2 linked regions of the Homo sapiens genome follow. The protein of the gene in region 1 interacts with the protein of each later gene in a biochemical or structural test. Each region holds a gene or a part of one and is shown in the gene's direction. Other genes may lie near its edges.

Region 1 (4,493 bases):
TTGGAAGCCCTGGTGGTCATGTTGATCCTCTGCTATGTTTTTCTCCCAAAGCCAAATAATCCTCTTTACAGACTTGGGGTTTCATGGACTTCCTCATCACCCTTAGGTGATTGCATACTCGGAACATCGTTACCGTATCTTTGGGGAAACCATCGATATTGCAGTGGGTAATTGTCTGGATCGTTTTGCTCGAGTGCTGAAGGTAAGCCAGTGGGGCTGCAGAGAACATAAAATGTGGGTGAATTTTTGGGAAGCCATGGAGGTGGAGGGAGGAAATAGTAAATGAGCTTCTTATGCTTCCTGCATATCTGATTTCATCCTCTTCCATTCCCTCCTTCCTTATTTTTTTCTTCTGCTAGATTTCTAACGACCCAAGTCCAGGATACAACATTGAACAGATGGCAAAGCGGTAAGGGGACATAAGGTGGAAGCAGGCTGGCTGCTGGGGCTTCAGGGATTTCCCCATATACGGTATATATTAACAAAATTTGGGACGGGCTTTGGAGGGTGAGAAGCCAGCTGACTGTAGGCTTAGTGCCTCGTACGCTTATTCCCACATAGAGGCAAGAAGCTAGTTGAGCTGCCATACACTGTAAAGGGGATGGACGTCTCATTCTCAGGGATCCTGTCTTTCATTGAGGTGAGTGTGAGAGGTGATGAGACGGGCACTTTCATGCTTTTTAAATGAAGCATATCTGTTTTACTTACGATTATATTTCGTATAGCTCAGTATATTCATGTAGCACAGTACTGGTCCATATCATGTGCTGGGTAAATTCATTTAGAAGGTATTCATTGAATATCTCTGTGTGCCACATGCTGTTCTAGATAGTAGAGATGCAGCATGGAGCAAAACAAAAATCCCTGTCTACATGGAGCTTAGATTCTAAATGGGGGGCGGGGGAGATAAGAAAGAGGAAAATAATGAAGTGCCAGATGATGATGAGTACAGGTGAAAAATTAAGCAGGATAAGTAAGGGGTGAGAGATGTCAGGACAAGTATTCAAAAAGTAATGATTGCATCTTAAATGAAAGCTGCTCATTCTATGCCATGATGCCAGTGAAGGGAATGTGGTACAGGATGTGCTGGTAACTTGAATTGTGGTGAAACATGATGACCCTCCGAATGCATTAATTTTTGCTCTCGTGTAATCCCAAAACCATGATTTGTTGATTCTTTTGTTTTTCCCTTTAATTGTAGGATGTAGCCCATCGGATGCTGGCCACAGGCGAGTGTACTCCTGAGGATCTGTGTTTCTCCCTGCAGGTAATGCAGTAAAAAACTGGGACAGAAAGTTGGGGCTGAAGGTTTTATATTGTAGAGCAGAACTAATCTGGGATGCCCCTCTAATATTTTCTCCTTATCTGTCCCTGACAGGAAACTGTGTTTGCAATGCTGGTAGAGATCACAGAGCGAGCCATGGCACATTGTGGCTCCCAGGAGGCCCTCATTGTGGGAGGAGTGGGGTGTATGTATTATTGAAAAGTGTTCCTCTTTCCTATTCTTAACACTATGCGTCTTCCTCCTGGTACTCTAAATCATTAAGCGTTTGGAGTAGGCTTCCCAATCCTTGCCCCTAATCCCCTATGTCATTGTTCTAAGTGAGTGCACATGACGTGTTCTGCTGGACCATGAAGAGATGGCTAAAACTAAGCTAATCCTGTTCCCTGCCTCTTTGTAGGTAATGTGAGGCTACAGGAGATGATGGCAACAATGTGCCAGGAACGTGGAGCCCGGCTTTTTGCTACAGATGAGAGGTAAAGACACTTTCCCTTTGGTTTCTTTTTTACTTCTCCTGTTATAGTGATTTTCCACCCTTAGATCCCAATTTTCATCTCTCTTGCATCCCAGATTCTGTATTGACAATGGAGCGATGATAGCCCAGGCTGGCTGGGAGATGTTTCGGGCTGGACACAGGACCCCACTCAGTGATTCTGGGGTTACACAGAGGTGAGTGATTCACCTCTTGGTGAGGGTAGATTATTGGGACATAGACAAAAACAGCAGGGAAGAGTCCAGGAACATGAGGGCAGAGAAGAATGAAGGATGTTAAGGGCTCGCTCTCCACCATGTTTCTTCTGTTTTTCCACAGGTATCGGACAGATGAAGTAGAGGTGACCTGGAGGGACTAATAAGATCAACAGAATCAGAGTAGATAGTTCCTTAATCGGAACCCAAAGGACCCCGTGCCTCAATCTCTATCCTGATGTCATGGGAGTCCTAGCAAAGCTATAGACTCCAAGCAAGGCTTGGGGTCCTTTATGGAACCCCAGGATGACTCAGCAATAAAATATTTTTGGTTTTTTGGTTTTGTATGTTGGTGATTGGATTGTGTTGTTCAGGACCAATGTAGATTTGGTGCTGGATAAATTCTTGTTGGAGCTTGCTGCTGTGGAACCAAGAATGAGGTATCTTTTTTTTTTTTTTTAAGAAACGGAATCTTGCTGTGTTTCCCAGGCTGGTCTCGAACTGGGCTCAAGCAGTCTTACCACCTCAGCCTCCTGAGTAAGGATGCCATTGTGCCTGGCAACAATAGTAGTATCATAACTATTATTATAGCATCGGGTCCCGTGCTAACTGCTTTACATTCATTCTCTCATTTAAATTCTTTGAAGTAGGTGTGCAAGACTTCTCTCAAAATAGCCTGGAGGCTCACACCTGTTATCCCAGTGCTGTGGGAGGCCAAGTCAGGAGGATCCCTTGAGCCCAGGAGTTTGAGCCCAGCCTGGGCAAATAGCAAGACACCATCTATTTGAAAAATGTAAAAATTATCTGGGCATGGTGGCGCACATCTGTAGTCCCAGCTCCAAGGGAGGCTGAGGCGGGAAGATAGCTTGAGCCCAGGAGTTTGAGGTTGCAGTGAGCTGTGATTGAGCCACTGCATTCCAGCCTGAGTGACAGAACAAAACCTTGTCTCTTAAAAACAAACAAACAAACAGCCTGGAGATTGGTCTAACTTGTAACTCTAAAACTGCCTCTACTCCGTATACTTTCTCCTACATGCACATCCATCGGCAGGCTTGAGGAATGCCCGCAGATGCACATCCCTCCGTACCACAAACAACAGAACGAATCTCATACCCTTAATCTTATTGATGTTGATATCAATCATCACAATTAGTCCTAAACTACTGAGTCATCTCATCTTTTACACTTAATAACCATGTATCTCCACTCTGTTTTGTCTCCATCTACCTACCTTTTCCAACTCTAGAAGCTCTTCCACTGTGCCCTCTGGAACTGATGGCCAGTCATTTGTCAAATTCTCTGTGTCCTCAACCTCTTCTCTGAACGTTCCCTTCACATTTATGCTCTTCAGACTTGGTTTCTTATGAGGACTCTGCTTCTCCTACCACCTCAGTAGTGGTGGCATTTTCCCTTCCACACCCAGTGTCCCACTGGGCCTGGAGGTGGTGCACGTGTCCTCATACTGTTTCCAGACCATTATCCCTCATCCCTAGTACCCTTCTGCTTTGAAAGAAACTACCATACGAACACCACGTTTGTCATAAATCTTATTTCAGTATTCAGGTAGATCATACTAACACCCGCTTCAGCCACTTATTTCCTTGGTCATGTTCTGGAGCTGCAGATCCTCCACATCTCAGTTTCAGACGTCCCACTCTCGACTACCACCACCTCCTGTTCTTCCAGTTCATTTTCTTTAGTATGCTAAATCCAACAGTTCATCCCTTCACCAGGACCTACGGTCCATTGATCATACTTCCTTTCTGCAGATTTTATCCCCCACGTATTTTTATTTCCCTCCTTCAGCTAAATTCCCATAATCCACCTCATTTCCCTTCCCCTCTTTTGCTTTTGTCATATTCAACTCATCACCTACTTTAGACCCATGCAGCTGAAAGGGCTAGTAAAAAATAGCCATGCTGACTGATCTTACTTCAAACTTACGACCATGACACTAAAATGGGTCCTTTATGCCACCCAGAAATATGCCATCTCTCTAGTCCTTTCACTTGCCCTCTTTTCTAGTGACTGTTTCATACCTTCTGACCCCTCAAATCTCTTAACATCTCCCCCTATTCTGACTCTTACCTTAGTTCCTATTTCAGTAAGAAAATAGAAACAATCAGTATACATTTACAAGCTTTTGCCCCTGAAACTAACCATCTTCCAGTATCTGTACCCATGTACTCTGCCTTCCTCCTGTTACCATAAACCAGTGGTTCTCAACCAGAGCTGATTTTGCTTCTCAGAGGACACTGGATTGTCACCGTCGATAGGAGGATATTTTACTGATTAGAAGTCAGGGCTGGTTGCAGTGGCTCACCCCTGTAATCCCAGCACTGGGAGGCCAAGGCGGGTGGATCACTTGAGGCCAGGAGTTCAAGACCAGCCTGACCAGCAATGGTGAAACCCCTCTACTAAAAATACAAAAAATCAGCTGGCATGATGTTGCATGCCTGTAATCCCAACTACTTGGGCACGAGAATCGCTTGAACCCAGGAGGCGGAGGTTGCAGTGAGCCAAG
Region 2 (5,037 bases), on another chromosome or scaffold:
ACTGAATTCCTATCCATTATAGGTCTGTTAGCTTAGGCTAACAGTACCTTTTGACTGATAGAAGCAGCTCTCTCAGTTAGCAAACAAGATCCTTTTTGTACCATTGCACACCATGGGAAACATTAGTGGTGTCAATTACATCTAGAAAGGGCACTATATGGTTCCCAAATTTGGGGCAACCATAAGAAAAATAGATTTTTAAAACTTGAATAGAGGTTTCATATCCTATAGAATGATATATGTAGAGATAATCATAATTAGTCCCAAAGTAGAAGAAGTCACCGTATGAGCATTAGATTCCTGTTGTGTCTTTCCCTACATCTTCTCTGGCCACGTTTACTCCAGCCATTGCTATGGCAACCAGCTACGCACGGGTGTAACCTGACAGCCGCTTGCCTCACTTTAATGCATATATCCTGCTTTCTTTCTGGTGCTATTCTGTTATAAAGGTGCATTTCAGAATCTGGCATTATCAGATGCCTGAACTAGAAGTGCAGGAGCATTAGCATTCTATGAGACAGCTCCTGACAAAAGAGGGAATGGAGTCACTGAATACATAAATGCTTTTCTCTTATATTCCTGCTCCAGTTTCATTGTTTTAGTCCTTTTCTCCTCTTCCTATTTTTTTTTTTATAAACTGTCTGAACAGAAGCCCTTGTTTCAGGCTCTGCTATTTAGGAAAACCCAGGATTTATTATTTTTCTTGATGAGAACATTTTAGTTTAGATGGTAGTGTATATCTAAGTAAAGATTAGTTTTGGTTTCTCTGACACTCTCATTAATATGTACTACCCTTCTTCCTTTTCATTTCAAAGAAAATGAAATATCTTTGATCAATCTTTTGTTACATAAGCTTAACAATATTCTAAACAGATTCTGTTCTAAGGCAATTATTTGCCTGTTTGCAGTAATGAATTATACTGTGAGGTTAGTAGTAAAAAATGTTGATGTCATTGATTTTATTCTTTCTGTACTTCTCAACTGAAATGTGAACTGTTTTTTTAAATCCATTGAATCAGTCATACTCTAGCTGAAACCTGTATTAGTTGTGTCAAAGACTAGAGAATGGAGATCACAGTTGGGAACGGTCCAAGTTAACCCAAAGAAGTATTGTCACAACATCTACTAACATCTACCATTTATTGTGCCAGGCACTTTACACACATTACTTCCATCACAAATTTCAAGGCCAGCTTTATCCCATCTTACTGATTAAGAAACAGATGCTTGGAAATAGTATAAAGTTACACAAGGCTGGTGTGGCTTAAAATCAAAGCAAGGACTGTTGCTCTTCAGCTACCTTCTGATGTAGTGACACTTCAGTAAGTTGAGTTTTCTGAAAAAGAATAAGGATAAAGACTTACCGCTCGAGTAATTTAGAAGTCACTACTCCGCCTCACAGCAACTTCAGCCTTCTAAACTGACAACTAAGACTATAATGCCATAAATGAATTTTTACCTAGCAATAATGTTTTCTTAATATTCTGGATTCAATTAATTCTTAGGGGATGGGTTGGAAGGAGTTGTAGGCATTTGCCTACCAGTCATTGTTATGTTTGTTGAAAAAAACATGTACTTGGCTATAAATGTCAGTGAAGCTAATATGGGACTTGGAGAAGAAGGAAAGAAACAAAGAGGAAATAGCTATCAGTGAATTAATCACTTGGTGTCACGTTTATAATGCTTCTGGAGACAGATTGTCTGAGTTCAAGTTCCAGCTCTGCCACTTACTAGCTGTATAAACTTGGACAAGTTACTCAACTTTTGGCTTCCTCAGCTGTAAAATGGAGATGATTGCCTTATGTGGTTCTTGCAATATCTCTACAAGGAATTACCTCATAGGGATATTGGAAGAATCACACAAGGTAATATGCAGAAAGCACCCAGAATAGCGTCTGATATGAGATAAATGTTATATAAAGTTTTGCTGAGTTAATGGAACTCATATCCTGCACCGTAGATGAAATATTTTATTTCTAAGTTGATTCCAATCCAGAAGCAGAAAATATTTAAACAATTACAATGTTAATTCTCGCAAAGTGAAAAATGAGCATCTGAAAATTTTTCACAATAGAACTGTTGTAAGATGACTGCCAAGTAATATTTTAATTACAATATATGCAGGCACAATTTTATACATTATATGCAAACAGGTGTATTTTCTCAAATATCTTTCAGATTTATGTTATTTACCTTCATCTATAAACTAATCACTCAAATTAATAAGCAAAATTGTGTTTGTATTTAATTAAAACTCTTTTTAGTCTGAAAATAGTCAACATCCTCAAATATTGTTACTACTCTCATAAAGTATTGAGTGTTGCTTAATCTGAGAGGTTGAATATGTTAGTGGAAGGAAACACGGTATTAATGTGAAAACTTAAGTTTGAGTCTAGCTTCTAAGTATGTTCAAATTGGCCCAGACATTAAATCTTTCTTAATCCCAGTTTCTGCATGTAAAAAATGAGAAGAAAGATACATATTGACATGGTATTGGTGTTACATGACAATGGGAATACCCATTTTAGATACTGTGCACATCATAAATTACTAAAACATTAGCTATTATTGTATAAGTTAACATTAACTCACAGAATCAAGAGAGAAATAGGAAACCGTTCCATAAATTTCAGAATTTTCCCTTACTAGTTGGGCCTTTAACTGCCATTGTATCATTTCTATTTTAGCCATAATACCTTTACATAATTTTTATGGCTGTTCACATCCAAATGGCCATGTGTTGAAATAATGCTTCAGTTATAAAAATCACACACACAAAACACGGAAAACCATTTGTATCACACATTGAATTTATTTTTAACTGAAGTGGGAAAAGAAATACTTTTTTGTGGTATGAACTGTGAAATCGCCCTCCTAGGGTGTTCAGCAAGTGTGAGAACATAAGCGTTGAGTTCTTGGGCACTCTCCCCAGGATACAAAGGCCACTCCTACATTAATGAGCTCAAAGCCATTGTGACAACTCTAAACAACCATGAGAATTCTCCAATTATCTCTCTCTGCAAACCCAGTTTTTAAAAGTGGGACTCACCTTTTTTAAATGCACAGAGTGAACTAACTTAAAGATTTATTAACTAATTGCATTATTGGGATTAGAATAATTAAATGATGTGATCAGTGAACTTTTTATTTTTTCTCTTTCCTTTTCATTTTTTGACAGCCTCATTTGTTGGGTACAAGTTTTATATCAATTAAAGTTTAAAATTCTTAAGGTATACAAAGGAGAAGAAAAAATCATTTAGACATCTATTATTAGGTTTTGTTACAACTTAACTGTATATAGGAAGCAAGGACAATTTCTAAGTGACTATTTTTGTGTGTGTTTCCCAAGACCTATTTTTGGGCACATAGGTGATATTTCGTAGCTAGCCCTTGCTTTAATTTGGAGAATTCTGTTTCTTCAAAAGTCAGAAGAGTTGAAAATACCCAAGGCATTCCTAGATTTGTTTTCAGTTACTTGAGGGCAATATTTATTTTTATCCCTGGCCTCTGTAGAGCGGAAGCAGTAAGTGTATTTTGGAATACTCGTTTGGTTGGCTAAACTTATTTGATTTGCTTTATGAAGTTGACCTACCCTCTTACTATTGTATAAATAGCAGAAAATACTTAACTTTGAATTATAGTGACTGTTCAAATCATACCAGAGTGTCATGAATATCTGAACACAAGTGCCAAGTCATTCCTATTACTTGCTCACATATACAAAAATTAGTGGTCTGTAATTCATCAGGTAATTCTGAACCATTTAGATCAGATTAGTCCCCACCCCCACTAGGATAGACTGTAAAATTATGAAAATTCAATTGTAAAGGCACTTTGATTACATAGTTTGCCTTTCCAACTCTGAAGTCTTAATTCAGTATGTTGAGTAATTAACTTTATCCTAATCTTGTGCAGAAGCAAAAGCACCACATAATTCAGTTGTTCCTAGATCAGTAAATAATCCAAACGCCCTTTGTGCAATTGACATGAGATAAACCACCTTGTTCTTTGTTAAATACAGAATCCTTTCCCCATAATACATATGCTATTCATTAGAATATTACATAAAAGAAAGGGTACTTTCACTAAAAAAAAGAATATATTTGGCAATATAACAACTTTCTTATATTTTTCCCATTGAGCCCTGACTGGTGTGACAAGCCAGCATACTGAAGTGGTGAAGAGTACACTGAACCTTTGAGCCAAGAGCACTTGGGTTAGTTACCAGGGGCCACATGCTTGCTGTGTGACTGAGGCAGGCAAAATTTTTAACCTCTCAAGGCTTTAATTTTCATGTCTATAAAATGAGTGTGGTTTAATCAAGTGATATGAAAGATTTCTTCCAGATCTACAGTTCCATAACCTTTGTGTAACAAACAATTCTTATACATTTTGCCTGAAGTTATCTTGCTTCATTTTCATCCTGTTATCACTAGATACGCTTCTTCTGCAGCAAGATGTTTTATTCTATTCCCTAATGTTTACTTCCTTTAGAGATTTTTCAGTTAGGGATGTTAGAAAGTGTCCACTTTGCATGTAAAAGGCCAATTCTCTGTCATGAGAGTTATTTCTCATAGTACACATCAACAAAAAAACATGTTTTTCATTTTTCCATGTGGTCTCATTTTTATGCAAATGGGAGATATTTGTTAGGCGTGGGGCTAGAAAAAAGACTTGGAGAGAGGGTGGGGACAGAAACCAACATCCGGAAAAAAGATTGAGAATAAAAATGAGGTTAAAAGAGATTGAGGAAATGACAGATGCTGGGAGAAAGACAGAAACTGTCTAAGACAGCTGGGAAGCTGGGAAGAGGAGATGGGGAAACTCATTAATTGGTCTAAGGATTTGGGAAGAGTATTCTGCACAGGCCCTCTAGCCACTCTTACAAGGCCAGTACCCAGTGGAGTTCTTCCTTCTTGCCATTAAAGCTCTTGCCAATCCTTCTTCCCTCCATCCACTCAATGTGCAGTGTGCTCTTTTCACTGTCCCATACCCACAAGGTAAGCAGAGATGTTTACCTTTCTAGGAAAGTGTTAG

What was found. Proteins that work in one complex are often made in the same cells at the same time.
Region 2: of the proteins of OSGEP (region 1) and EMCN, one has a biochemical effect on the other in vitro, tested with the Homo sapiens proteins (one study listed by BioGRID).

Annotation. Positions count from the first base shown.
Region 1 is NC_000014.9:20,444,880-20,449,372, reverse strand, and holds the end of OSGEP (tRNA N6-adenosine threonylcarbamoyltransferase), read left to right. Parts: intron 1-106; coding exon 107-202; intron 203-359; coding exon 360-409; intron 410-561; coding exon 562-640; intron 641-1,201; coding exon 1,202-1,267; intron 1,268-1,378; coding exon 1,379-1,469; intron 1,470-1,682; coding exon 1,683-1,758; intron 1,759-1,852; coding exon 1,853-1,951; intron 1,952-2,093; coding exon 2,094-2,133; 3' UTR 2,134-2,972; downstream 2,973-4,493. UniProt on the Homo sapiens protein: Component of the EKC/KEOPS complex that is required for the formation of a threonylcarbamoyl group on adenosine at position 37 (t(6)A37) in tRNAs that read codons beginning with adenine.
Region 2 is NC_000004.12:100,507,432-100,512,468, reverse strand, and holds part of EMCN (endomucin isoform 1 precursor), read left to right. Parts: intron 1-1,126; exon of another isoform or gene 1,127-1,336; intron 1,337-5,037. UniProt on the Homo sapiens protein: Endothelial sialomucin, also called endomucin or mucin-like sialoglycoprotein, which interferes with the assembly of focal adhesion complexes and inhibits interaction between cells and the extracellular matrix.